4 separate regions of the Homo sapiens genome follow, and regions 2, 3 and 4 are each linked to region 1. The links come from fine-mapping of genetic effects on gene expression. A gene starts in region 1. Each other region holds a variant in brackets. All regions are shown on one strand. Distances are from middle to middle.

Region 1 (7,448 bases):
TGTATTTTTAGTAGAGGTGGGGTTTCGCCATGTTGGCCAGGCTGGTCTCGAACTCTTGACCTCAGGTGATCTGCCCGCCTTGGCCTCCCAAAGTGCTGGGATTACAAGGCATGAACCAGTACGCCTGGCCCAGAACCTCTTTTTTAAGAGGCATTTACTTTTTACCAAGTTGAAACATTCATTGGAAAAGCTCTCCAAATAAATTGGGGTTCAATTAAAAAGGGAATAGACCCTAAATTACTAACAATGCCAAATATTCACTATAGCTGTTTTCTAAAATGCAAATTTTCTTTGCTTAAAGACCTCCTTGACTCTTCATTACCTTAGTATGGCAATAAAAATTATTCATTTCCTAGTCTTTACCCTCATCTCCAACTCAAAATTTATTGAATATACCAGACCATGTGACAGAAGCTAATAGACAAAAAAGCACTCTTACCTTGAGACATTCATAGTCTAGTGACAGAAGCGTGATAGTACGACCACTTCTTGATTGCTTAATATGTCTAAAGCAGAGTTTACTGGCAATAATAGCTGGGGTGGCCATAAGTCCTTGTTTTTCCTATTGTCCTGACATCATTACTATCAGCACAAACCCCCTTTTCCCAGCCTCAAAAGTTTCTCAGTTTGGACAGAAATTATAGGTCATTCTAATAATAATAATACAGTATTTTCTCAGTTAACTCTCAAAACAATTCTGTGAAGGAATGAGATGTTCATTCCTACTGGATAATGTGAGTAGAGTTTTATAAAAAGACTATCTGCAAAGGTATGTGCAAAATGAAGGGAAACCATAGGGGTTTACTCTGGGTCACCCTAGGGAGGGATACTGGCTGCTTCCTTTGGTTGAGGGAGGCAACCAGCCTGCAATGGTGCCATAGTAAGGGAGCCAGGGGGGAATAAATAACCATACTCCTTCCTCTTTGTTCCATCGCTGTTGCTTCCTAGTGCCTTCACTCAACTGGAAGCTAGAGGGAAAGAAAGTCTCTTGAGTTAAGGCTCCAAAGGACAGACAGCAGGTTGGAGAGTGGATCTGGCTAACAGAACACGTCCTCCCCCAGGACTCACTGTTACTACCCTATTTTACAATAGAAAAAAAAAAAATGAGATGAAAGTTTAACTTATTTGATATAACAAAGCTCATAAGTGATCATCTGTAGCTGAAGTGCCAGGTTCTCCCCACTCTGCCACTCTCTCGCTAAGGCTCCAACATTCTAGCAATGCCAGGATACCCACCCTCCCCATAGCATCTTCACATCCCAAATGAGATGTTGGAATATGTAACGTTAAGTTTTGCTGATTAGAATAAACTAACCTACCCACCAAGGTAGGGCATTCACATTCTTACAATCTAAGCAGATGAGTTTACAGCATATACATTCACAAAATAAATAAGTAAAAAAAAAAAATTTGATAAACAAATTCTACAGTCTGTTCTGGTCAAGATAACACAGTTCCTTTGCAACTGCCCTTACATCCGGTTGGTGGTGTGTGGAGCCCTCTTTTCCCAGGCCTTACATGAGGCCTCTGGTCCATGGGCAGTGCTGCTGCTGTCTGATCCTCCTTATGGAGAAAGGACAAAATGTCCATGTACCAGAGCTGCAGAAGAAAGTATTTGTCTTCCCCCTCCCTTTGCACAGCACCCATCTGTGTGTAATCTTATTATTATATATTTTTTGAGACAGGGTCTCACTGCGTCACCCAGACTGGAGTGTAGTGGCGCGATCTCGGCTCACTGCAACCTCCGCCTCCAGAGTTCAAGCGACTCTCCCACCTCAGCCTCTATAGTAGCTGGGACTACAGGCAAGCGCCACCATGCCTGGCTAATTTTTGCATTTTTTTAGAGCCAAGGTTTCACCATGTTGGCCCACCTCAGCCTCCCAAGGTGCTGGGATTACAGGCGTGAGCCACCGCGCCCGGCCCATTTATGTGTAATCTTAATTCAACACTTATTGAGCGCCTACTGTATGTTTGGCATAAAATGGTGGTCCCTAATTTCAAAAGATTTGGAGTCTAGAGGGCAGAAATTGAAGAGGTTGGTGCTCTGCACGTCTGAGTCCGCCCACAGACTGAATAAATAAGCTCTGCGTCGGCGCCCCTCACCTTTCTTTCATGGCCAGACTTTTCTCTGGCGGTTCCACAGCTGTCCTGACAGTGGAATTCAGACGGGGTGACCAAGCCCCTAGCCCACCTACCAGCGAAATCCAGCATCAGTTCCAGGGCAGCCGGACCCGCGCCCGGGGACGACTGACCCTTAGCCCAAGGCTGCGGGGGCGTCGGAGTCCTGAAGCGCAGGCGAGGCAGGGCCAGCGGGACAGGGAGACTCAAGGCCCCAGGGGATCTGGGCGTTTGAAGACTCAGGTCAGACTCTGAGGCGCCCGTCTAAAGAGACCGGTTGTCTTTTCCCTAATTCAGGAGGCCAGGCTGTCCCTTGGGGCGTCGTACCGAGGGCAGATCACAGCCCTTCCCTCCTCACCACACTCCCTGTGCTTCCACCCAGCTGGTTCCCCGCCCTGTCCATCGCTGTCCTCAATCGCTTGTTGTCGTGGGCCCCCCTCTCCGGCCCACGTGGGGCCGCAGGGATCCACAGCTCATCTGACACACCTCGCTGCCCTGCACGCACCGGGACCCCTCCATTCCGCCGGCCCCTCAGACACGCAGTAACACCCCAACATCTGCTGGGAAAAAAATCTTCCCCACGGCGGAGGAGTTCTCAGTCCCACGCGCCCAGAGTCGCACCCACTCGAGCCACCCGCCTGTTGCCGTCGCCACGCCCTCCAGCCGCAGCCCCAGCGCGCATTCCTACGGGTCGCCGGGTCTGTCGCCAGCGATCGAATGAAGTCGGCTGATCCCCCACGTGTGGCTGCTCCAGTGACACCCAGGGGAGGCCTCGGTCCTTACCCCTAGAGCAACCAATGGCTGCCTTAATTCTTCAGCGGGGGCGTTCTTTTTCTTCCTCCCAAGCAGGCGGCCGTTGGGTCGGCCGAAGGCAGCAGCGACTACTACGGCTCTTCCTCTCCAATGGGATCCCCTGTCTGCCCGCGCGCCACAGTGACAGCTTCCAGATGCCTGTCTTTAGTCTCCCTTCTCAAGGGAAGCGGTGGGCGACCGAGGTGCGGCCTGGAGGGCCCCCATGTGGGAAGGGAAGACTTGCGGAAGGGCAATTCTTCCAGTGCGGAGACGAGGAGGCCAGCCCAGCCGCACTTCGGTCGCCCACCGCTCCGCCTGGTGGTCCGCAGCCCCTTCCAGGCCGGCTTCTCCGGGTGGGGCGTGCTAGTCCGGGGCTAACTTTCCGCCACGTGCTGTCCCTGCGACCCGTCTCCCCCGGTCGCCCTTCCTTCTCCCGGCGGCCGCTGGAGCTGCCCGCTTCGTGGAGCCGGTGGCAGGCCCCGGGGCTGGGAGCTCGCGCCCAGGCTTTTACTCAGATTCCAGCACCTGATGGAGCAGGGGGTGGCGGCCAGCGCACAGGCTGTCGGCATCTCATGGCAGCGGAGACGGTCGTTTGGGGACGGAGGGGCGAGCCCCGCGGCCGGGGCCAGTGGAGCTGGGCTCGGAGCCCGCCCACCATCCTCCCGCCCACCACCGCGGCCGGGCGCGCAGGCTCACACCCCTTCCTGGGGAAGCGAATGGTCCCTTCCAGGCGGGTGGCCATGTTGCTCTAATAAAGCGGGAGGGGCGGCGGCGTGGGGGGAGCAGATGCCGCTGGCTGCCAGCGGGACGCCGGCGAGCAGAGCGCAGCCGCGAGGGAGGCGCGAGGGAGGCGAGCCGGAGCCCGAGCACTAGCAGCAGCCGGAGTCGGCGTAAAGCACCCGGGCGCAGCCGGAGCCGGTGCCGCAGCTGCGATGGCCGTGGCCGTGGGGAGACCGTCTGTGAGTGCTGGGGCCTCGCCTGCTGCTCCTCGGGCGCCGGGTGGTCTCTGCTCTGGGGCGGGTGCGGTGAGGACCACAGGGGAGCCGGGCGGGTGCTCGGCCCCGCGGCGGCGGCGACGGCTGTGGGTGTGTGCACGAATTTGGGCGCGCGTCTGGGGTCGGGGTTAGGAGCCCAGGGGCTCAGTTACGTGATGCAACAGTGGATCGCCTCGTCGCGCCCCTCTTCTGGGAATGCGAAAGAAAAAGGACCCCTCTCCTGTTCCCTTTAAAATAATTCTTTGAGGCGCGGCGTGTCTCAGCCGCCTCCCTCTGCCCGCGCACCTCTTCCCTCGTGACAGCCAGAAGGGCGCCGGGTTCGGGGCTTTCCTCCAGTCTCCCCCGCGCCGAGGGGGCGCTCAGGGCATGGGAATTGCGAGCTGAAGTGCTGCGTGTGGCACTGCTGTAGAAGCAGGTCAGAGGGGTGGGATTTCCGTGGTGGCCTCCCCAGCGCATTGTGAGATCCCGGACACCCTCGGGCATCCACCCGGCTGAGCGGGCCCTGCCCAGGATGTGGACAAAGCCCCAGATAACACACACAAAGTTTTCTGGAGGCTCCCTTGTGGTGTGGGTGGAAGGACTGAAATGTTCTGCGGCTGAAAGGCCGGGGGCGGCGGGCTGAGGAGGCTGGGACGCGAGGAAGAGGAAGGGCGGGCGGGTGCGTGAAGAATCGAGTGCCCCACGGCGGGAGGGAGGAGAGTAGGAGGGAGGAGATACCTTTGCCCCGAGTGTGTGGGCCAAGGCGCCGCGCCTACTGGGTTGCAAGACTCGGTCCGCGCCCCGGGGCCGGGCCGGAGGGGAGCGGGACTCCGAGGGTGCGGTTCAGTGGCCGCTCCGCATCCCCAAGTGAAAGGCGGAGGAAGGGGCGGCGGCGGCCTTTCCTTTTTTTTGAAAGGAGCGGAGCTGGGTGGGAAAGGCGGAGTCCTCCTGTTTTCCCTTTCCCCTTTTCATCGTCGATGTTCACAGTCCACTCGCCTTACTGGCTTTGGGGGCGCCTCGGGCGATGTCTTTCCCTGTCTATCACCTCCTCTTCCCTTTTTCTTCTTCCCTTTCCCACAGCTGTGCAGCTGCAGGTGGTGGCTCGGGAGATTTTGTAGTTACAGACGAAAGACTTACTGAGATACTGGAAGCTCGGAAATCCCAGAAATGCAAGGCTGTGCTCTCAGGCTCCCGGCTCTTCCCCCTCTCCCCGCCTAACTCCTCCCCAGATACGCGCGCCTTTTGCACCCTACCCCCTCGGGAGAAGTTCATGGGTCCCTTTGCGGATTCTAATTCGATTTGGTGGTTCGGCTGCCCGCGGTGCTTTCAAAGACGTTTTCTGCAGTCAGAAAACACAGCGGTCATATCGAATCATGACTGTCTTTTAGGCCTTTTCAACTCTACGATTTAATGACATGGCTCTTTTAAGAATTCTGGTCTTCTTTTGCACATAAATTGTGCTCTTGATAATTAGTGGTCACATGTAGGTTATTGTTACTGAGGGAATTTGCATAGTCTCTGGGCTAGTCGTTTTATTTTTGGTGAGAAAATTGAGGTCTATAGAGGTGAAATTTATCTGGTTAAATTACTCCTCCCCCTGCCCCCCATTATACTTATTAGCAGGCATAGATTCAGAGAACTAAAATAACAATATCTGCTTTAGATAAATTGGCAAACGTTTAGGATTGCAAATATTCAGTGGGGGTGTTTGGCTTTTTCAGTAACACGTATTATTGCTGGTGCATTCTTGAGGGATGGAGGAGGTGGAAGAAATAATTAGCTGCACATTTTCTATAAATTAGTTCATATATGTCAGTTAAATAGGAACAGTATGTGGATTTAAGGTTTAGTTGTGTGGCCGTAATCACATCCAACACCAAGTCGGCCAACCATATGTGAGCTTAATCCCACAGAATTCTTATGTTAGACCTCCCTCTTCAGATAATAGAGGAGATTTTTTTTAAGTATACGTGCACAGAGGAAGTGACTTCTTTCTGCGCACTCTGTTGTCACTGGAATTAAAATTAAATTACAATCTAAAGACAGAAGACTTTTCTTTTGGAAACCTAATGTACGAGTGATTAGGAATTGACTATAAAGTTAGAAAGTCTACAGAAAATATGTGATCACATTTCACAGATAATTGTTGAATCCTTTCACTTTGTTCATTGGGCTATTGTCTTAAGTGTGGTCTCTGCAGTTATGGCTTTAAAACAAAGTCAATGAATGGGGAAGACTCTTGAGACACAGCTCCATGGAATCTACACTGCACCTTTAAAGTTAAGAGTTCTCTGGCCCTCCCATTTCTTATCTAGTCTGTGATTTCACCAAAAGAAAGGAAGGGTGCGCTGAGGGAAAAGAACCACTCCGAAGTTGATTTATGTGTGAATGGAATTTCCCTAGGTATTTAATTAGATTTTTTAAAAAGTTATTTAGGACATATATCTCCTTTTGCGATAACTACCTCTCCCCGCCAGACTGAAGAAAAATGCAATCTGAATAACTTACCCTAAATTTTTGATATTCTTGAATGGGAACATCTGAGTGTGATATCCCAGGTAAATATGACATTTTAGTGGGCAAAAATGCTTACATGTCAAATGCACTATTTTCTATCTTATGAAATGGTTATATTCTGTTACAAACCATTCAAACCTCAAGGCTAAATTCAGGTAAGTTTCTTAAGTGGATTTGTTGTTGACTGCAAAACAAAGCTTCAATTTAGTGTGATACTGTTTATTTCAGTTTTAATTTTGATCCCTAGCTTCTCCATTTCCCCACTGATGGTTTTTGGGCTTAGCCCTAAGAAGACCCTGAAGCACATCTGCTGTTTGCCTAGTATAACTGATGATTAGCAAGAACATTTTACTCCCAAGGGATGTGTCTGCATTTTGGATGAATTAGCATTTTTGCGTCCAAATCCCGGGGCAGCTATTATCTTTATTTTAAACAGAACATGGCAATTTACTCTACTTGGGAATCAGGCTTTATGTAGCTGATGGCCTCTCCTAAGCTGTGGTGTTCATCAGTTTAAAAACTCTAGGAGTTGAAAGGAACGTTAGAGGTCATTTGGGTTAGCCTGCTCCCCAGTGCAGAAATATTTCTTACTTTATCCCTAACAAAAAATATGTGTTTAAACTTCACTGGTGGTGGAGATTTCCCTATGATATCCTTCAAGAAATGCACTTAATTGCTGTTTTATCTGTTGAGCTGAAGGAAATGGAAAACCAAGTTTCCATTTGCTCATTTAACACCATTTATTAAGCACCTGCTATGTGTCAGGAACTTGTTCTAGGTGTTGGGGATATAGCAGTGGACAAGTTTTCTTCTTACCAGGAGCTTTATTGTTTGAGAGATTTGGTGTATTAAAGTGACAGACTTCAGTGTAAATGTGTAAATCATTTAGGGAGAAAAGGAATTATATGCCTATTGCTGACTCAGCAAATATGATTCAGGTGAAGGATCATATCTGTCTGGGGATAATTATAGGCAATTCTTAAAGATGAGGGCAGGGAGTGTGGGAAGTGGAGGAGTACTGCCAATAAAATGTTACTTTCCCTTGTT
Region 2 (7,448 bases), 69 kb after region 1:
GAAGGAAATGCCAGCCCAGTACCATTTCATAAAAAGCAGCTCAAAGGAAATAGATCTGTGCTTGTTTCTACCAATCTTGGCAGAAATACATTAGCTTGTCCCAATTTTGCTTTGGTGATTGGATCCTGCCCTTCCCTCCTTTCTATTTTCCCTATACTTTTCTAATCATTAGGTAAACTGGCAGTTGAGGATACAATTTCCACATCACAGAGAGGAACTAGTCAGGTGATAAATGATTAAAGTGACAGTGGTTCCCTGTGTGATTGTGATGTAATCCCTCCTGGTGAGTCTCCATCCTGCCGGTTGATGCTCAAGTCTGTTTCACTACTCTTTTGTGTGTCTCACAGCCCATAGCTCAGCTGTGAGCTGCAATGACTCTGCACATCTTTTTTTCCCTTTGGGAATGCATAACATCCATGAAAGCCACATGCTTTGCATATAGTGGAGGCCCAGTGATGGTTGTTGGAATTCAAAGTAGTAAAGGCTCTAGAATTGTTGGAAGAATCTGGAAAGCAGATTCTTCCCAGGAAATAGGCATGATGGGGTGTGAAAGGAAGGTTGCCACAAGGGAAAATGGCTAGACTTGTGCAAAAGAATGAATGGACAAAAGATCACCAAGGGGTTTTGGTCCCATTACGAAGTGAGTGTTTAACTAGTAGAGCCACTGAGATGGAAGATACACCTTACTTCTTGGGAAGTAGTGAGTTCCCATCGCCAGTGGTTTGTAGATAACAGACCCTGTTTCAGTCCACTTGGAAGAGATACTGTAGCAGGAATTCTTAAGCAGGATTGAACGTATAATAAGCAAGATCTCTTCCACCTCTAAAATTCTCTGGTTGTGGGTATTGAGAGCTACATAATAATAATAGCACCTGACATTTTTCACATTTCTGGAGCATTTACTATGCACCAGGAACTGTTCAAGACTTTCCATTTAATCCTCACAACAGTTGCATAGGTAGGTGCTGTTATTATTCCTCCCTCATATATGAGGAGACTGCAGCACAGCACCTAAGATTGCATGGCTGTGGGTAGTGGAGGTAGAATTGGAACCCAGGCTTTGGCTGTCAGGCTACACTCTCACCCTGTGTACTGCCGCCCGAGCAGAGCAGTGTACCATCAGCCTCGGCATCCATGGATTTCACCAACCATGGACCAAAGATATTTGGAAAAAAAAAATGCAACAATAAAAACAATAATACAAAATATATATATATATGTGTATATATATAGCATATATATATATTTTGTATTATTGTTTTTATAATATATATAGCATATATATTATATATGCTAAAATATATATATAGCATATATATACACACACATATATATATATACACATATATATATATATACACATATATATATATATATATATATACACATATATATATATATATGGCCAGGCACAGTGGCTCATACCTGTAATCCCAGCACTTTGGAAGGCCGAGGAGGGAGGATCACTTGAGGCCAGGGGCTCAAGACCAGCCTGGTCAACATAGCAAGAAAATAAAAAATAAATTCTACAAAAAAAATTTTTTTAAATAGAGTATAATAACTATTTATATAGTGTTTACATTGTCTTAGATATTATAAGTAATTTAGAGATGATTTAAAGTATACAGGAGGATGTGCATAGGTTATTTGTAAATACTATACCATTTTATATCAGAGATTTGAGCACCTGCAGATTTCAGTGTCCATGGACAGTCCTGGAACCGGTACCCTGTGGATACTGCAGGAGGTCTGTACTTTTTTATAGGAAGGTCAAAATCTCAAACTGAGATGGCACTCCTTTATTCTGCTGTAGAACTGTAATTTGGGATGTCAGTGTGGGATTCAGGAAGTATCATGAATGACTGCTATGTAATTTTTCTTTATATTCCTATCCTTCTAGATAATTTTTCATTATTTTCTAGTCATGGAACTATATCTTTGTTAAACTTATTGGAAATAAAATACCCAAGAATTTTTGCTCTCTTTCTCTCTTTATCAGATTAATAGAACTGAATCTCTGACATTCCAAATTAATCCTGCTCTTTAAAGAAATTTTCTTTTAGGCTCTTCATTACAAACTATTCTTGCTGATCAAATTCCACGTAATGTCTGAGGAAAACAGATTCCACTGGCAGTTGCTTTTGTTACATTTGAGTGGAGAAATTTCCTTGGTCATTACACCAAAATATTGACCAGAAAGGTCCTGTTGCTCCTCAACTTCAGGGGAAACAATAGGGTTCAGGTCTGAAACTCAGACTTGTTTGAGAAAGATAATGTGCTTTCTTTCCTTCTTAGGGTGTGAGATGAACTAGAACATTTCAATATCTTGAGCGTCCAACAAAATGCTACTTGGGCAATCTGAGCCAATGATTATGCCAAGTTCTTTGTAGGAGAGGAATTGGCTTGAAAACTTTATCTTCTTTCTCAGTGTATCTATGGTGGAAGAACACTGGATCAAGGAACTCTAAATAATAATTCTTGGAGCAGCTATTTCAAATCTTATTCTTACATGCTAATAGAAAAAAGATAGGATTATTATTTCCTCCCTCACTCAGAATGCAGTGATAACTACCAAATAAACCAATGTGAAAGAGTCAGTTGTCTTGGACACCATCTCTACTTCAGATAAATCTGGGTGCATAGCTTGAGCCAGTAATTTGGGCTAAAGTGTGTTTCGGACTTAGAAATTTGTGCAATAGTCAACTGTCTAAAGCAGTGTTGTTCAAATAGAACTATAATGTGAGACACACAAGTATTTTAAAATTTTCTAGTAGCTACCTTAAAAAAGTAAAAAGAAATGTGAAATTAATTTTAAGGACTTAACCCAATATGTTGCAAAATATAATTTCAACATGTATTCAATATAAAAATTATTAGATATTTTAGGCTGGGCACGGTGACTCACGCCAGCACTTTCGGAGTAATCCCAGCACTTTCGGAGGCCAAGGCGGGCGGATCACAAGGTCAGGAGATCGAGACCATCCTGGCTAACACGGTGAAACCCCGTTTCTACTAAAAATACAAAAATTAGCTGGGCATGGTGGCCGGTGCCTGTAGTCCCAGCTATTTGGGACGCTGAGGCAGGAGAATGGCGTGAACCCGGAGGGCAGAGCTTGCAGTGAGCCGAGATCGCGCCACTGCACTCCAGCCTGGGCAACAGAGCGAGACTCCATCTCAAAAAAAAAAAAAAAGATATTTTAATGTAGGTCTTTGAGATCCAGTGTATATTTTACAATGACAGCATATCTCATCGTGGACTGAATTTTCACCAAAAATATTTTATCTGTATTTACATTTT[G/A]TAAAATTCACAGCTAAAAAGTTAAATTTACATACAGGTTTCTCCTAACATACCTTAAAGATTTTCAATATGAAATAAGTGCCAAAAAGATACTTTATCTTTAATCTTTGTGTCTACCTTGCCATCTACCTTGGTCTTTTTCAGAAGATTTGAGTTTGAAGCAAAGTGAAATGCAGTTTTGCCAAAACAATAAAGTTGCATTTAATTGAAAAATATTTTACGTTGCTTCCATTTTAAATTTAGATGTAAACTAATTAAAAGTTAGATATTCAATTTCTTGTTCCTACAAGCTGTATTTCAGGTGCTCAACAGTCACATATAGTTAGTGGCTACTGCATCGGCTAGCACAAGTCTTAAGCTTACTTTATAGTTGCAAAGACTCATACACTTTTCCCTTGAATCTAGCTCGTGTCTCATACTCAGTGTTTGGTTATAAGGGGGGTGGGATACGTGACATCCACCCACCAAACTGCAGCCTGCTTTTCCCTTGTCACCAAGTAGAGGCCTGCAGAAGGAGGGAGAAGATAGAGACTGGTGGAAACCAGTCTGTCAGAGCAGGGGAAAGTAACTATTCTCTGTCCTTTTGCTTGGCAGGTCCATCTCCCATTTGCAGTGGTTGGCAGCACCGAAGAGGTGAAGATTGGCAACAAGATGGCAAAGGCCAGGCAGTACCCCTGGGGTGTGGTGCAGGGTATGTGCACAGCATGGGAGATGGAGTCTTCATATTTAGCCCCTATGTGAATGGCCGTGTTTGTTCATTTTCCGTCTTGTTTAGGGAGGCCCTCAACAGTGGGCTGGCAGTGGGAGGGAGTGGTGGGGCTCCACATGTGACAATCGTGGAGGTGAGGAAGAAAGAAAAAGTAATCAGCTAGGTAGACAATGGAGAGACATGGCTGCCAAGCCCTTGAGGTAACCCCTCAAGGATGCTGGGTTGTGTAGGGAATTAATATAAAGTCCTGATTGAAAAATAGTTCTTCCCTAGGAGTTGGAGCTCGTTTCATCAGCCAAGTATTAAAAAGCAGCAAAAAGTTTCTTGCAAACAAGAGGGTACTTTTTTCTCCATCAACTATGCAAAAAATGTCTTCTAATAAAATGTTATCTTAGTAAATCTGAGACTTAGGAGAATATTTGATCTATATTTGGCACTGTGGGACATGGCCACAGTCTAACCTGAAAGCTTGTCACGTGTGTCACTTTGAATGACAAGGACTCTATGACCTACTCTTATGTTCTGAAGGAGGACATCCAGTGCTATGGATTAAGCAGGATGGCTAAAGAAAGTTCTTCGCTGGTTTAAGATGTATCAGACCTCCTTTTCCTCTGTTTTGAATAAAGGCAATAAAGCTGTGAGAAGAAACAGTACCTTTGAGATCCCTGGGAAAAATACAATTTTTCTTACTCTTACTAATTTCTCTACAATAAGAAAACTCCTTTCTTCCTAGTGTTGTTGATAAAATTAAATGAAGTGGTATGTAAAAGTGGCCCTGCACAGTTATAGACAGCATGGAGTGGTACAAATACATCTGGCTTTGGGCCAGATGTTCTGGCATTTGAATCTAGACCCTGCTACCTCTCTTTGGGAGGTCAGCTTGCTCACCAAGCTCCTGCGTCTGCAAAGCAAGAGTCATGACATCTAGTTGGCAGAGTTATTATGAAGGGTAAAGACAATATTTGTTTTCAAGCTCCTCCCTCTGTGCTCTGTGCTGAGTAGGCACTCAGCAGTCAGCGTTGTCATCAGTATTATGGTCAATGTTGTCAGAAATCTTGTCTTCGTCAGGAATGTAAGGTGAATCCAGTAAAGGATCTTCAGATGGTCTTGAGACCCCAGAGATTTCAGGAGTGATGGTAATAACATCTTGGAAGCATCACTGCAGATATTTCAGTGACATCATTGCTAATCCCACTTCCGCCATTTCCCCCCTCTCTTGTAGTTGAGAATGAAAATCATTGCGATTTTGTGAAACTTCGAGAGATGCTGATCCGCGTGAACATGGAGGACTTGCGAGAGCAGACTCACACCCGCCACTATGAATTGTACCGACGCTGTAAGCTTGAAGAGATGGGGTTCAAGGACACTGACCCTGACAGCAAACCCTTCAGGTATGAAGGCATCTAGCAATCAGGTGTCTCCCAGACAGTGGCGAGAGTGGCATGGTGGTACATCACAGAAATGCTTGCTGGATTGAGATGGTGATGATGGAAGGATCTGGTGGGTGAAGATTAATACATATGTTGTCAGGCATTGTGATAATTGCTTTATTTGCATTATCTCAACTAACTTACCTAGTTGATGTCATTATTATCCACATTTTACAGATGAGGAAACAAAGGCACTGAAAGTGTAAACAAACTGCCCAAGGTCCTCCAAGTAGTAAACAATGGTGTGGTGTTGAGCTCTTGCCATCTGGGTCCTGAGCCCAGGTTTCTGCCAGTTCTCTTGCAGAGGTGCAGAGCCTGGTCGATATATTTACAAAGGTGCGGCTGCTGATTACAGTTTGCCCCATTCATTTTTGCCAAACACCTTTAACTTCCGGAGGCTCTTCCTTTGTCAAGCACTTTTACTATTAGCTTTCAGTGGTTCGGTAAAATTCTAACAACAAAGAATCAGGAGGAAAGGAGAATAGCTTTTAGGAGATCTATGTATTTTCTTATATCACTGACGGGTGGAGACGCAAAATGTGAAGGGGAGAAATGGATGTAGAATTAATATCCTAGCCGAAGCCCAGACCCCGTCAGAATCCAGTGGTAGGGATAGGGCTGGCAAGGCTGGGGTGCTGTTGCCCACACCGTAGTGAGTCATGGGGTGGTTCTGGGTAAAGTTGTGGGGTGAGGCTGCCAGGCCAGGTTCACCACCTCCTGGTCGAGGAGAGGATTGTCCAGATGGTGCCCAAGCAGTTTTCTTTCTTTTTTTTTGTTTGAGACGGAGCCTTGCTCTGTCACCAGGCTGGAGTGCCTCGGCCTCCCAAAGTGCTGGGATTACAGGCGTGAGCCACCGCGCCTGGCCCCCAAGCTGTTTCTTAATGGGGATTTGAATTCAGGTGGTGTGAGGTGTGTCTGGGCTCTGTGCCTTTACAAACTGAGGGCCATAGTTCCTTGGGGAAAAAAAACCTGTCTTTCTCCTCTTTGGCCTACAACACACTCTGATGTCTACAAGCTGGCTGACAATAGAACCGGAGGCAGCCTGTGCACAGCAGATTCTGTCCCCGTGGGTCTGTAGGAGGGAGTTTATTTTCTTGCAATTGCTTTAGAGATAGTTTAGGAATGCCTGGGCTTGTCGCCTGGCACTGTGCTGCTGAGGAGTTCCATGAGCATGTGTGTATGCAGTGAGAACAAATGCAGAACCCAGACAAGGGGCATACCAAGAAGTTAACTTCTAGCCAAGATTGCATCATTCACTTCTGCCCTGACGGCTTGCAAAACTGACCATCTCCAACCATGTGAAAGTCATGTTCTGAGGCGAGGTGTAGGACACCTTTTTGTGTACACAGGTTTAGCTAATTGAACCTTGAAATGCATTTACCAGAAAATAATCCTTACAAAATCAAGTCCACTTTATGGTTACTAAACCTGATGAAATGGTTTCTGTGTGGGAAAGGCCGTCTTCAGTATTACATAAAATATTTGTTTTCATGCAAAGAGATATGGAACAAAAGGAACTGCCATAAAATTGAATTCATTTTCCCCTCACCTTCATTCAAATCCAGACAGTGTTGAAGAGCACTGGGCTAGGAGTCAGGAGTTTGGGTTCAGTTCTTGGTCCTGCTACGCTACAAGTTCTTAACCCATCTGGGCCTGAGTTTCTTCATCTGTGAAATGAGGAGCTGATCCAGATCAGGGAATAATTAGATCCAGTAAAAAAAAATTTTTTTCCATACTGGGTTAGACAGTAAATATTTTAGGTTCTGCAGGCCAAACGGTCTCTGTCACAACTATTCAGTTCTGCCCTTGTCGTCCGAAAGCAGCCATAGACCATACTGTAAATGAATGGGCATGGCTGTGTTCCGGTAAAACTTCATTTACAAAAACAGATGGGGGGCCAGATTTGGTCCTCAGGCTGTAGTTTCCCAACCCCTAGACGAGATCATAACTTGGAGCCTGTGAACTGCCTGCAAAAGTTAGAATGCATGTGACTGCTTCTTGAGTTTGTTAG
Region 3 (7,448 bases), 140 kb before region 1:
AATGCCATCTGAGAAGGTACTGTTCACATTTTAGGCATCATAGATTTGTGTATTTGTTACAGTTTTTGGCAGATAAGTCCAATGTCTTATTCTAATAAAAAGAGGATACTACAGCAATTTTTCAACAGATGGAAATAAAGTGTCTTGAGGAAGGTAGTGGTATATTGTTATATTAATGGCTCCAGTGAATCACATTTCCTGGTATCGACACCCTTCTTTGGTCCTCTGCTATATTAACTCTGAGCCATTGGGAAATCAGCAAATGTGACACGGCAGACTTTGCAGAATTCCCAATGATCAAAGCCAAGTTCTCCGTGATTTTTCTGGACTTTCCCTTATCATCAAAGGATGGCTGCTGCTGATCCAAACAGCTATAGGCATCACATCTGCATTCAAAGTAGGTAGAAAAGGAGCAGTGTAGGCAATGCCAACCAGAGTGTCTTTTCTCTCTTCTCTTCTCTTTTTTCTTTTGACAGAGTTTTACTCTGTTACCCAGGCTGAAGTGCAACGAAGCAATCATAGCTCATTGCAATTTCAAACTCCTGGGCTCAAGTGATCCTCCTGTCTCAGCTTCCCAAGTAGCCAGAAGTATGAGGTGTGTACCACGCACCTGGCTAATTTTTTTTGTATTTATAAAGACGGGGGACTCACTATGTTGCACAAGCTGGTCTCAAACTCCTGGCCTTAAGTGATCCTCCTCCTTCTGCCTCCCAAAGCACTGGGATTACCGGTGTGAGCTACCATGCCCAGCCCCAGAGCTGCTTTTATTAGAAAAGCAAATTTTTTTCCAGCAACATTCCAGCAGACTTTCATTTATATCTCATTGATCTTCATCATTTGGCCATTGTTAGCTGCAAGGGAGTCTGGAAAATGGAATATTAACTTTTCCAAGCCTCTGTAGTAAAACATGACAAGGAAATGGGAGTTTAGGAAAGGATATTGGGTTGACTAAACAGCAGTGCCTGCTGTGGAACTTTTAATCATGCATCCCATACATAGCCACGCTCCTATTAATACCACTGTGTTAGGCCATTCTTGCATTGCTAGAAAGGAATACCTGAGGCTGGGTAATTTATAAAGAAAAGAGGTGTAATTGGCTCAATTTCTGCAGGCTGTACGAGCATGGCACCAGCATCTGCTCAGCTTCGGGGGAGGCCTCAGGGAGCATTTACTCATGGGAGAAGGTGAAGCAGGAATGGGTGTGTCACATGGTGAGAGTGGGAGTGTGATGGGGGGAGGTGCCACACTTTTACATAACCAGATCTCCTGAGAACTCACTATTGCAAGGACAAGCCATGCAGGATCTACCTTCATGACCCAAACACCTCCCATCAGGCCCCACATCTAACACTGGGGATTGCATTTCAACATGAGATTTGGGGGGACAAATATCCAAACTATGTCAATCACAAATGTATACAACATGGAGACTGGAAGCTGCTAGCCAATTTCCAAGCTTTATCTTACAATTCAAAGGGAAGAAATTATCTCCAAGCCATTGATTTATTCAACAAATATTTACTGAGGATAATTCTACAAGTTAGACATTGAGCTAGGCTTTGAAATACCATCCCTGAGATTCAGGAATGGACCTACTGTTCTGCAGGACGAAGAATTCAGCCTCCCTGTAGGCCTGGAGAGAAGGGATAAATATTGCCAACAGCCTCTCATTTCACTGTAACTTCCGTTTTCACATCTGTTTCATTTATCTTTTCTTTTTTTTTTTTTTTCTTTTTTTGAGTCAGTCTTGCTCTGTCATCCAGGCTGGAGTGCAGTGGTATGATCTCGACTCACTGCAACTTCCGCCTCCTGGGTTCAAGCTATTCTCATGCCTCAGCCTCCTGAGTAGCTGGGATTATAGGTGTGCGCCACCATGCCCGGCTATTTTTCGTATTTTTAGTAGAGACAGGGTTTCGCCATGTTGGCCAGGGTGGGTCTCGAACTCCTGACCTCAAGTGATCCACCCACCTCCGCTTCCCAAAGTGCTGGGATTACAGGTGTGAGCCAGGGTGCCTGGCCTTCATCTATTTCCTCTTTTAACTTCCATTTCCATTCCCATTTTCCTTGTATCAGTTAGCTTTTGATGCAATAACTAACCATCCTGAAACTTTGTAGCTTAAAACAACAGTCACGTATTGTTACTCACAAGTCTGCAGGTCAAGTGGCTGGTTCTTCTGATCTGGGCCAGGCCTGGCTGATCCCAGCTGGGTTTGCTCATGTGTTTGCAATTCATCAGTGGGTCAGCTGAGGGCACTTAGCCTAGGATGGCCTCACTCACATGTCTGGTGGTTGGTGCTGGCTGTCAGCTAGGGCAGTGGGGTAACAGGGCCACGTGTCACTCGTTCTCCAGCAGGCTTGCTGAGGCTTATAAATAAGGTGGTTGTTACGGGATTCTCAAGAGTAGGAAGAGTAGGCAAGCCCTAATGTGCTAGGACTTTTCAAGTTTCTGCTTGTGTCATATTTGCTACCTGTTCCATTGATCAAAGTAAGTCACAAGCTCGGCCCAGATTCCAGAGATCGAGAAATAAAGTCCATCTCATGATAGGTGGAGCTGCAATCACACTGCAAGGGCAAGAGAGCAGGGAAGGGAAGAATTTGTGCTCATTTTGTTAACTCCCACACTTCTTTTCTTCCACTACATAGGACACCAAAAATTCGTTAAGCTGGTTAATGATCTTTGAGGCCAGGTGCAATTCACTTCTATCAAACATTGGTTATAGTGCCTCTGCACTATTAGGGGAAAAAAATAATAAAAGGCCTGGCGTGGTGGCTCACGCCTTTAATCCCAGCACTTTGGGAGGCTAAGGTGGACAGATTGCTTGAGCTCAGGAGTTCAAGACCAGCCTGGGCAACATGGCAAAACCCCGACTCTACAAAAAATACAAAAATTATCCAGCTGTGGTGGCATGTACCTATAGTCCCAGCTACTTGGGAGGCTGAGGTGGGAGGATTGCTTGAGCTCAGGAGGTGAAGGTTGCAGTGAGCTGAGATCATGCTACTGAACTCCACAACAGAATGAGACCTTGTCTCAAAACAAAAAACAAAAAACAAAGCCTGAATTATCCACCACCAACTCCTAAGCCACTGGCTGTCAACATTTATGAACTAAGACCCATTAGCAAGAAATTTATTTTACAGTATCCAGAATATACATGTACACATTTTTTTTTTAGAAAAATAAGTTATGGGCCAGTTGCAGTGGCTTACGTCTGTAATCCCTGTAATCCCAGCACTTTGGGAGGCTGAGGCGGGCAGGTCCCTTGAGGTCAGGAGTTTGAGACCAGCCTGACATGGTGAAACCCCATCTCTACTAAAAATACAAAAATTAGCTGGGCATGGTGGTGCATGCTTGTAATGCCAGCTACTTGAGAGGCTGAGGCAGGAGAATGGCTTGAACCTGGGAGAGAGAGGTTGCAGTGATCCAAGATGGTGCCACCGCACTCCAGCCTGGTGACAGAGCGGTACTCCATCTCGAAAAAAAAAGAAAAGTAAGTTGTGACCCACTAAATTAATTCACCACCCACTAATGGGTTATGATCTGTAGTTTGAAAAGCATTTTCGTAAGCTAAGGCCAGGAACACCACTTTTCTAGGAAAAGAGAACAGCAGGTTCCCTTTGAGGGGTTCAATAAAGAGCCTGAGTTTGGAGCTTGCAGGATCAAAAGAAGACCAGCATGTGGGGAGTCTACTGAATGGGAGATGAGGCGGGAAATATAGACAAGGGTCTGCCAGGAAGGTCTGCAGGTTGTGGCGGGGCATTCGGGACTCACTCTTCAAAAAAAATAAAAATAAAAAATAAAGGGTCTTGCTATGTTGCCCAGGCTGGTCTTAAACTCCTAGGCTCAAGGGAGGGATTCTCCTCCTTCAGCATCCTGAGTAGCTCGGATCAGGAGCATGCTGCTCTGCCTGGCTTCCATTATTCTAATGGAAGTTCCCAGTGGTTTTACGCAGAGAAGTGACATGATATAATCTATTTTCCAAAATAGTTTCTCCTGACCTCATGCACAGCCCTAAAATGATTGCAGAATGACTTAATTTTCTCTAAATTTAAAACAAGCCCGGAATGGTTTTAAGACCCTCCGTAGAGAATTCTTTCACTCTCCCCCACATTCATTCAATGAAACTCATTTCCTGGTTCCCTTCCCTCCACGAGGGCGCCTACCCTCTGCTGAGCAATCTGGAGACCAGAATCCTGCAGAAATAAGAGTGCTGAAGTTTTAAAATTCCTCTTTCTATCAAGTCCAGTACTTTTATTATCCTTCTGTCACTAAGAATCCACATATCTGCTGGCCACACTGCCCTCCTGGCTGGAGTCATGCATACCCATGGACTTTTTTTTTTTCTGATTTGCAACATTGACACTTGGAAGGACATCTGTAAGTTTTGGCAGCTGGCTCCTCACAGCTTGGAAGCAGGTCTCCTCTCCCAGTGGGGGT[C/T]TCCATCTCTGCTGGGACATCTGCAGTGCCTGCTGTTGGGAGCTGCCACACATGGTCTGAGTCGGGGGTCACACAGACTGAAAAGGAAGCTGAGAGAGGGATTGCTTAGCAGGAGACAAGCAGATTTCCCAGGGCCTGGGCCTCCTTGGCTGGTCCCCAGGAGACGAGTTCCAGCTGCTTTTCTTTTTTGCTTCTTCTTCCTCCCCCCACCCCCCTTTCCGGTTTGGGCCCCTTTTCCCTCCCGCCTTCGGCCGACCCGCAGTCCAGACAATATTTCGGGTGGAAAACATCACTGTCAAAAAAGAAGAATCCAGAGGATGAGAAGCTGAAAAGCTGAGGGGGAGCTCCCCTCTTCTGGAAGCCTGTTCCATGGATCTGTCACCTCTTGTCTGGGAAAGATGATGGGGTGCAGCAAACACACTCAGATGTGTGTTCCTGCAACCTGTTAGCCCCTCACTTCCCTGTGCCCCCTCTCCACTTCCCCTTCCCACGCTAATGACTTGCCCCAAGTCTGTGGTGAGCATCCCAACAGATTTATTTTCTTTGCAGTTTCCAAAATAGATGCTTTCAAAGCTTAGAGTTAAAGATACTGGTAGGAAAAGGGATATTGAAGGGAGAGGAGGAAGAGGAAAGAAAGAAGTGGCATTGGAAAGTAGAGCAGGCCAGGCACAGTGGCTCATAGCTGCAATCCCTGCACTTTGAGAGGCCAAGGTGGGTGGATCACTTGAGACCAGGAGTTTGCAACCAGCCTGGGCAACATCATGAGGCCCTGTCTCTACAAAAAAAAATGTTTTTTTAATTAGTTGGGCATAGTGGCAGGCCTGTAGACCCAGCTACTCATGAGGCTGCTGTGGGAGGATCACTTGAACCCACGAGGTTGAGGCTCCAGTGAGCCGTGAGCCATGATTGTGCCACTGCACTTCAGCCTAGGTGACAGAGCTAGACCCTGTCCCAAAAAAACAAAACAAAAAACAACAACAACAAAGACAAGAAAAGTGGAGAAGCTAGTAAGTCAATAAATTGTAATGGTTAAAGACAGGAGCTCCAGATTCACTCAAACCTGGTTTATAATCCTATAACTGCGGCTTATTGACTTGTGAATTAAGGTTGTCTGTTTTAACTTCTCTGAGGCTCTGTTTGCTCATCTGTAAAATGGGCATAATTGTATCTGCTTATCTAAGTTAAAAACTAAGTGAGACTCTTCTTTTCTCTTTTCTTTCTTTTCTTTTTGTTTTTCTTTTTCGAGAAAGAGTCTCCCTCTGTTGCCCAGGCTGGAGTGCAGTAGTGTGATCTCGGCTCAGTGCAACCTCCGCTTCTGGGTTCAAGCTATTCTCCTGCATCAGCCTCCTGAGTAGCTGGGACTACAGGCATGCACCACTACACTTGGCTAATTTTTGTATTTTTAGTAGACAGGGGGTTTCACCATGTTGGCCAGGCTGGACTCGAACTCCTGGCCTCAAGTGATCCACCCCTGTTGGCCTCCCAAAGTGCATTAAACGACACTCTTAATGCAATTATTATCTACTCGAGTAAGTGCTTGATAAACGGTAGCTCTTTATAATGAATATTATTCATGTAAAGGGAACATTGGAATAGCTGTCGGATACTTTCAAAGAAACAAAACCAGGAAACTAGCTATTGAGGAGCTTTGGAAACACAAGCTTTCAGCTGGATGCTGTATGTCTTTTTTTTTTTTTTTTTTTTAACAGACTGAGTCTTACTATGTTGCCCAGGCTCGTCTCAAACTCCTCCTGGCCTAAAATAATCCTCCAAAGTGATGGGATTACAGCATGAGCCAGCCTATTTATGTCTCTTAGGTAATTTTTTTAAATGTTTATGGGTACATAGGTATATATATTTATGGGATACATGAGATATTTTGATCTAGGCATACACTGTATAACAATCACATCAGGGTAAATGGGGTAACCATCACCCCAAGCATATATCATTGCTTTGTGTTACAAACATTCCAATTATACTCTTATAGTTATTTTTAAGTATGCAATAAATTATGGTTTACGGTAATTACCCCATTTTGCTATCAAATACTAGATTTTATTCATGCTTTCAAACTGCATTTGTGTACCCATTAACCATCCCCTCTTCCCCGCTTACATCTGACCACTCATCCCAGCCTCTGGTAACTAACCTTCTACTCTCTATTGCCTTGAGTTCAGTTGTTTTAATTTTTAGCTCCCACAAACAAGTAAGAACATACGAAGTTTGTCTTTCCTGTGCCTGGTTTATTTTACTTAATATAATGACCATCCATGTTGCTACAAATGATAGGACCTTGTTTTTTAATGGCTAAATAGTACTCTAATGTGTATATGTACCACATTTCTTTATCCATTTGTCCATTGATGGACACTTAGGTTGCTTCCACATCTTGACCACTGTGAGTGGTGCTGGCGGTAAGCATGGGAGTGCAGATGTCCCTTTGATATCCTGATTTCCTTTATTTTGGATATATACCTAGCAGTGGAATTGCTGGATCATAGTGTAGTTCTATTTTAGTTTTTTAAGGAACCTTTGACTTGTTCTCCACAGCAATTATACTAATTTACATTGCCACCAACAGTGCATGAGGGTTCCTTTTTCTCCACATCCTCGCCAGCATCTGTTATTGCCCGTCTTTTGGATATAAGCCATTCTAACTAGGGTGAGATGATATCTCATTGTAGTTTTGATTTCCATTTCTTTGATGACTGATGATGTTGAGCAACTTTTCATATACCTGTTTGTCATTTGTATGTCTTCTTTTGAGAAATATCTATTCACATCTTTTGTCCATTTTAAAAATTAGATTATTAGTTTTTTTTCCTATAGAGCTGTTTGAGTTTCATATATAGTCTGGTTAATAAGTCCTTGTCAGAGGGATAGTTTGCAAATATTTTCTCCTATTGTGTGGATTGTCTCTTCACTTTGTTTATTATTTCCTTTGCTGTGCAGAAGCTTTTTAACTCGATATATTCCCATTTGTCCATTTTTGCCTTGGTGGCCTGTGCTT
Region 4 (7,448 bases), 40 kb after region 1:
AGACTGGTTGTAGTTATGTCCAAAGGGCAGAGTGGGAAAAATTTGGCCGAAAAGAGTGTGGTGGGTGACCAGCAAATGTTAGAGGTATACATCAGGGCACAGAGGAGAAAAGCTAACATGATACTGATGACTTCAAGTCTTCACTGTCCAATTCAGAGGATAGGGGAGGGTTTAAGCTGATTAAACAGTGGGCTTTTTTTCTCCTGCAAGAGGGTGGAGGTCTATAACTGTGCAGATTTTATCAGATGCATGCTAATACATGTTATTCTGGGGGACTCTCTTATACCTTGAAGTAGACATTGCTGCTATTTGGCGTGAAAAAAATAGGAGGACTTATTTGAATTGAGAATGGGGATAGGCTGAGTTCCACCGAGATGTTGGCTTAGAGATGCCTGGGCCATGCTGTACAGTAGGAAGCCCAGCAGAGGAGATTGGGCTGTGTGGGTCATGACAAAGGGAGTTGTTAGCTTATGGTTGGCTATTAAAGTCATGGGCAAGGATGGGCAAGAAAAGTGTGTAAAATGAGCTGACAAAAGATAAATATGTTAATTAATTCTTTACAACAGCCCTGTGAGAGAATGTGTCTTAAAGCTGACAAAACTGAGGCAAAGTTAAATACCCTAGGTCACACAGCTAAACTATGAAAGAGGTGCTCTTGTCTTGACTTCACATGTTGGGCACCTTCCACTACACTTTTCCACTTTTCCGATTCCTCCTGTCACTTTCAACATGACTTGGTTCTACTATTAGAAAAATTAAGTTCTCCTATTTTACTCTGTTAACCTACCTATTAGCTACAATAAATATTGTGGGCTTACCTCCTCAAAAAAGATCTTTATTTAGTATTATTGTTATTGATGTTCCTGGATTTTAAAAATCTTATATATTTTCTATTATAAAACTACAGCTTTTTTTTCTTTTGTAATAATTCAAATGTTACAGAAACAAAACAATTAAAAGGTAACATTTCCCGAAAATCTTACCAGCCCCAAAGAAAACCCCCACACGGCATTAATTTTGTAAGGATCTGGAAAAGCAAAATGTGTTCCTCTACTGGGAGTCTTCTGGAGAAAGTTACTTGGAGATAGCACTTGGAATTGGGACAATTATTCAGTATTAATCAAGTGCTTTTTTGGTTATATGATATGTTTTCCAGAGTGGCTCCCTGGGTTTGGCATTCTGAGCTTATCTACCTGGCTTTGTGACCTAGGGGCTGGCTCCTGGATGCTCCTCCTTAGTCTCAGCTTCCAGCTGGGCCGCACTGAGAAGTTGTTCTTTCCTTGTATTACCATATGGTTTTTCTCTTAACAGTTCCTCACTGCCGCCTGGCGCTCTCTGTTCTGCTGCTTGTGTGAGACAATTTCCTTGGGGGTTTTCTTGGCTCTAGGCATGGGATTTCATGGTATAGATGACAAGCAGAGTAGCAAATGTTGTTCAAATCATCTTTAAAGAATGCAATTCTCATTGGTAATGAGATGGTCCAGACATTTTATATTATGAAAGTTACCCCAGCAATGCTTAGCTTTGAAAGCATCCCGATGCTGGCTTCATAGCTGTGGTTTGGGTCAAAACTTTGCATTCCAGTGTTTTCCCTTTTGCATGAGAACTAAGGGCGTTTCCCATCTTCCCATTAACCTTCTTTTTTTAAAAGAGAATGTGAAACCAATTCAATACTTTCTAGAATGCAGTCAGATAAGAGTGTGTATCTACAGAAATGATTAATCAGGGTACTTAAATAAAACTTACTTTGCGGACAGTTCGTGAGGCCAGAATTTCTCCAGATACTGGGAGGTGGCTGGTGGTCAGTCAAAGATTTTGTGTGCGAGACAGCATGTTCTTTTCTTTACCTCTCTTCAGCTCAGAGGCGTCTGTACTACTGAAATAGGACCTCAGAAAAAGACATGACCTAAGATGAAGGGGTATGTACTTCTTCTCTTTTCCAAGTGGGTATTCTGTAAGGAGAAAAGACAGAGCTCAAAGGAGTGTACTGTACATGTCTCCTCTGCCCTCTGCTGCCCCATGGTTTCATCTCAGCTCTCTTTAAAATTGGACATCTGTTCCCTTGAAACCTGAGTTCTGATATTTCTACCTTCTCCCATCAGGTACTGCTGCTCAGAAAGACTATTTGTTTTCATCTGAATATGTGAAACCTGCACATCAGCTGTACACAGGGGCCGCCTATTAAATTAATATTCAACAGTGCTTTGGACTAATACATATTTTTACATACTATAGGCTGGTGAATTCACTCAAAGAATGAGTAGTTAATCACATGAGTTATAAGGCTACACAGCATCCTGTCCTTTGGATAGCTTTATGGTTATGTATTTGTGACTATTTGATTGACATCTGTGTGCCCCATTACCCTGTACGCTCCATGAGTTGGGGAGGCTTTGTTTTTTCATCATGGTATCCTTAGCATTTAACACAGTGTTCTACCCACACTGGTACTCGATGAATATTTGCTGAATGAATGAAAGCATGAATAAAGATTTGCTTTTCTTTTTGAGAACAGATAACTAACTTATACAGAGAAGTCATTTCCTAGGTTTTTTGTTTGTTTTTTTATTTTGGAGATAAAGTATATCACTCTGTCACCCAGGCTGGAGTACAGTGGCACAATCCTGGCTCATTGCAGCCTCTAACTCCTGAGCTTAAGCAAGATCCTCCTGCGTCAGCCTCCCAAGTAGCTGGGATTATAGGCATGAGCCATTGCGCCCAGCCCTAGGTTTTGTTTTGAGGATATAAATCCACTTTTCAAAAATCTCGTGGATGACTGGAGATGTAGCCAAACAAAAAGAAATTGCTTTTAAGCAGGGCATTTGTAAACAGTGGGTACATAACTTTCTTAGCTAATTCATATGTATTGTAGTTAAGCAGAAATTAAAAGTTGAGGTGGAAAACACAGAGGTTATGCACACAGATTTCCATTTGGTTTGGAGTTTCCCAGCATAACTGATAGAAACTCCCTTTCATGGGTCAATTAAAACTTGAGCCATCTTGATCTGGCCAGAGCAAATATGCTTCCAGGAATTTTTCACCCTGTGTTGGCTTTCCTTAAGCAAAATGACGGAATTGGATTTATGCATCTCTAACATCCAGATTAAGAAGCCTTAGAATTAGAAAAAACAAAGAACCAGAGACTTTGTTTAGAGGTAATTTGATTAAATCTCCTCACTTTACAGAGGAGGAAACATAAGCCCGAGGATTAAGTGACTTGGATCAGTATACTTTATTTATCCATAATCTGAGGCGTTGAGAAAAATGTAATCACCATGTCTTGTTAATAAAAATCTCCAGCTCTCCACCTGAATACATAAATGTTATCTCTTAAATTTAAAAAAAAATAAATTTTAAAGAGAAAAATCTTTCTAAACTTAAATTGTAATACCTGATTTTAAAGGTAAAAATTAAATATTGCTTTCGAATGGAAACGTAATTTTAATTTGTTTGGATTAAACAATTCAAATATCACCTTGGTAACATGCTGTCTTGCTTCCGCCTGCTGATAAGGATCAGAGGCTACGGCCTATCTAACCACATCTACCGAAACACTTCATTTTTAAAAGTAAAGAAAAGGGATATCACTTCAGTTTAAGTATGGTGAATAAAATCCATCTGGGCACACCGAGCTTGTTAATTTCAGTAGACCCAGGGCTGGATTAAAATACAGTCATGTACTGCTTTACAAACTCTCAGTCAACAATGGACCGCATATACAACCGTGGTTCTGTAAGATTATAAAACTGCACTTTTACTGTACCATTTCTATGTTTAGATATACAAATATTTACCATTGTGTTACAGTTGCCTACAGCATTCAGTACAGTAATATTCTGTACAGGTTTATAGCCAAGGAGCAATAGGCTATCCCATATATCCTAAGTGTCTAGTAGGCTATACCATCTAGGTTTGTGTAAGTGTATCTGGAGTTTGTTCCTGCCGGTTGGTTTGTGGTCTTGCTGACTTCAAGAATGAAGCCGCAGACCTTCATGGTGAGTGTTGCAGCTCTTAAAGGTGGCACGGACCCAAAGAGTGCGCAGC[G/A]GCAAGATTTATTGTGAAGAGCAAAAGAACAAAGCTTCCACAGCGTGGAAGGGGACCTGAGCGGGTTGCCGCTGCTGGCTTGGGTGGCCAGCTTTTATTCCCTTATTTGTCCCTGCCATGTTCTGTTTCTGTTGTATCAGAGTGCCCTTTTTTCAATCCTCCCCGCGATTGGCTACTTTTAGACTCCTCCTGATTGGTGCGTTTTACAGAGTGCTGATTGGTGCATTTTACAATCCTTTTGCTACAGAGTACTGATTGGTGTGTTTTTACAGAGCACTGATTGGTGCATTTTATAATCCTCTTGCTAGCTACAGAGTGCTGATTGGTGTGTTTTACAATCCTCTTGTAAGAAAAGTTCTCCAAGTCTCCACTCGACCCAGGAAGGCCAGCTGGCTTCACGTCTCACAAGTACACTCTAGGATGGAGTCCCCAATCCCCAGGCTGCCAACTGAGACCAGTCCGTGGCCTGTCCGGAACTGGGCTGGCCAGCAGGAGGCGAGTGATGGGCTAGTCAGCATTACCGCCTGAGTTCTGCCTCCTTCAGATCAGCTTCAGGCATTAGATTATCATAGGAGCCTGAGCCCTGTTGTGAACTGTGCATGGGAGAGATCTAGGTTGTGCGTTCCTTATGAGAATCTAATGCTTAAAGATCTGAGGTAGAGCGGTTTCATCCCCAAACCAACCCTGTCCGTGGAAAAATGGTCTTCCACAAACTGGTCCCTGGTGCCACAACGGTTGGGGACCACTGCTCTAGAATGTTCACACAAGAACAAAATCACCTACTGGCATGTTTCTCAGAATGTTTCCTCATCACAAAGTGGTGCATGACTGCAGAAGCAAAAGTGATGGGGAATCCAGAATGCTTCCCAGCTGGGGAGGATGTGGATTCTGCTAACTGCTGATTCTGCAAACAGGAATGTGATTTTGTGGCTTTTCCTCCAGCTTTGTAAATGAGTTTTCTCTTTAGGAATGGATTTTCTTCAGGCTAGAATCATCATTCTCGTTTTTTATTTCTTTCTGTTCACTTTATTTTTATTGTGATTTTACCTTATTCATATGTCCGAGAGCCCTGCTGGTCAGCAGCTTCTCCTGGAATGCCTAGCAGCTGTAATAGAACTTCTGATTAATTTCAGATTTTTAAATGATAGTTGCCTCTTCCTCCCAACTACTGTAGGTAAAGGAAGTCCAAGTTTCAGAAGACCTGTTAAGTGCTAGGCACTCTCATCCATACCTCTTTATCTCCTCCCAACAACCCTGCCAAGGAGATATGTATGAGAGAGCCTAGCACCTCTTCCTGTTTTTACTGAGGGCAGAATAGAGACTAAAGCAAGTAGAAAGCAAAGCTGGGATTCAAACCCATGTCTGTCTGACTCTAAGCCTTTTGCTGCCCTTCTCTGGTGAAGCAAGATTTGGAATTGTGGAACATATTTTACAGCAGCGCTCAGAATGTAGGTGGTGGCACACATTCTTACATAATTTGTTTTATAATTATCTCAATAATGAAGTCAGCTGGGAATTTTCTGAAAAACTACCAGTTATACACTTCAGGTATACATTCATAAGAAAGTGACCTTTTGGGCATAGAAACATTTATCCAGAAGGGTTCTGCAAGCTGGGCTTTTGTTTCACTGATAGATTTGGGGAACTTTAGCTTTCCTAAAAGGTACCCCCTGAATTTCCCTAGACAAAAACTACTTCTCCTCCATGCCTTCCCGTAGTTGACGCCATGGTATTGATGACTTTTATCCTTCATAGTCCTACATTTACATCTGTCCTAGCTCTACTACTACATTGTAAAACCTCTTAAGGGTCGGAACTGCAGTGTTCTTCAATGAATTATAAAAATAACTTATTTTAGCTTTCTTAGTGCTTTGAGCAGTGGGTATTTTTGAATGAACAAATAAATAATTGTATCTAAGAGGATATGTTCTAAAAAGAGAAAAGTGAAATTGTCAAGTGAAAAACAAGTTTATTTTATACCATAAAGGTTAGTCATAATCCATTTCAAGATGGAGTGGGCTATAGAAATTACCTAATTACAAATCCTTACTAGGTAGATTAGCAAATGCAGGGCTAAATCAATTAAGGTCTTATAGTTACTTACTTAGTGGTTCTGTGTTGGCACTTTCTTTTCAAAAATGGTTAAAACTAAGCATTATATTATAGGTTTCATGTGCCATCACTACAAAAATCATATTTGGTCTTGGCATTGCCAGGATCAGCGAAAATATACTTGGAGCTACTTTGCCAGTTCTAATTCTCAATTTCCACCTCTTAAGGTTGCCAGAGAATCATGGTTTCAGAGTATTTTTTTCCTTCTATTTTAATGTATTGGATTTTTATAACAGCTGAAATAATTATGCTGTCTGGGGCTACCTGGGAACTTAATATTCAGTTCATGAGATAAATTTCAGTTTCATGAGATAGCAATGACTATGTTCGACAACTCTGGAACCTGACTTCCTGGGTTCCAATTTCAGCACCTTGACTTTACTAGTTGGGAAACCTTGGGCAAGTTACTAAACGGTGCCTCTGTTTTCTCATCTGTAAATTGAGTTTGGGTAACAATGTAACTAATTTATAGAATTATTAAGAGAGAGAAATTAGGGCTTTTCTGGAGCATTGGAAGGGATAAATGTTAGCTGTTATTATCATGATGGAATTCCAAATAGCTTGAGCAGCTTTTCAATCAGTATTTTCCTTTTATTGGTCAGAAGAATGTTTGGTGAAATTTTCCCCAAGATTTCATAATAAAGACAATGATGGAGGTATAATTTTATTGGGATCTGGAAGATTTGGATATGTAAACACTGGCTGTAAGGGCCTTTCACATAGAGGAAATAATGTGAGTAAATTCTGATGGGAAGAAACCTGGGTTTGTCCCAAGAAGAGTGGTCATTTAATTTAACTGCAGTGTAAGGTGCTCCCTGGGGAGAAGTGGGAGGTTCAGTAGGAATGGAGACTTGAGGTTAGCCCATGGGGCCCTGAAATGACAGGCCAAGGAGTTTGGATTGGGGACCTTGAGTACCGAGATCCCCTTGATGGCAAGGTGGAGGGAGGAAGTATTAGAGAGGGTGAGATCAAGTCAGGGAGGCCAGTTGGGAGGCTGTTGAATTAGTAGGAATAGAAATGTGGAGGATGTAGTATTGATAAGACTTCAGAGTTGATGGTGGGAGGGGAGCTGGTCTCAAGCATGGCTAAGTACTGTTAACAGAAATAGGGAACTCTGGAGAAGGGGCGAGTTTGGGATAGAGGAATATGATTTCAGTTTCATGAACATCAAGTTTGAAGTACAGATGGGACAACCCAAGAGAAGTGTTCCTCTGATAGAAATTCAGAACTGGATGCCAAGCAGAGTTCAATATTAGAGATAAATTCAGAGAGTCGTTTCCAGATGTGTTAGT

Alleles and levels. Alleles are on the strand shown, and positions count from the first base shown. SD is a standard deviation of normalised expression in the study named. Not every link is listed here.
In carriers of allele G in region 2, the expression in hippocampus of the gene that starts at base 3,691 in region 1 tends to be lower than with A alone (small effect, 0.24 SD a copy in GTEx).

The links.
Region 2: its variant is fine-mapped to the expression of SEPTIN11 in hippocampus (GTEx, PIP above 0.99).
Region 3: its variant is fine-mapped to the expression of SEPTIN11 in lung (TOPMed, PIP above 0.99).
Region 4: its variant is fine-mapped to the expression of SEPTIN11 in whole blood (TOPMed, PIP above 0.99).

What each region holds. Positions count from the first base shown.
Region 1 is chr4:76,946,062-76,953,509 of GRCh38, forward strand. It overlaps SEPTIN11 (septin 11), which reads left to right and starts at 3,691. Exons shown (of 10, transcript NM_018243.4): 1 at 3,691-3,869. The coding sequence starts at 3,843. LOC105377294 (a long non-coding RNA gene) reads right to left here and starts at 3,504. Exons shown (of 3, transcript XR_001741739.2): 1 at 2,902-3,504. RefSeq lists an enhancer at 2,476-2,555 and silencers at 3,466-3,645, 3,676-3,985.
Region 2 is chr4:77,015,273-77,022,720 of GRCh38, forward strand. SEPTIN11 (septin 11) reads left to right here. Exons shown (of 10, transcript NM_018243.4): 6 at 3,893-3,989; 7 at 5,230-5,398. LOC105377291 (a long non-coding RNA gene) reads right to left here. Exons shown (of 2, transcript XR_001741734.2): 1 at 6,987-7,448; 2 at 1-5,504. Among named protein-coding and RNA genes, the nearest start is that of CCNI, 57 kb to the right of the region's middle. RefSeq lists an enhancer at 3-535. The variant G/A (reference allele first, on the strand shown) is at 3,299.
Region 3 is chr4:76,807,706-76,815,153 of GRCh38, forward strand. LOC124900719 (a long non-coding RNA gene) reads right to left here. Exons shown (of 2, transcript XR_007058150.1): 2 at 4,223-4,524. Among named protein-coding and RNA genes, the nearest start is that of SHROOM3-AS1, 9.0 kb to the left of the region's middle. The variant C/T (reference allele first, on the strand shown) is at 4,436.
Region 4 is chr4:76,985,952-76,993,399 of GRCh38, forward strand. All of the region lies in intron 1 of SEPTIN11 (septin 11), which reads left to right. Among named protein-coding and RNA genes, the nearest start is that of SEPTIN11, 40 kb to the left of the region's middle. The variant G/A (reference allele first, on the strand shown) is at 4,045.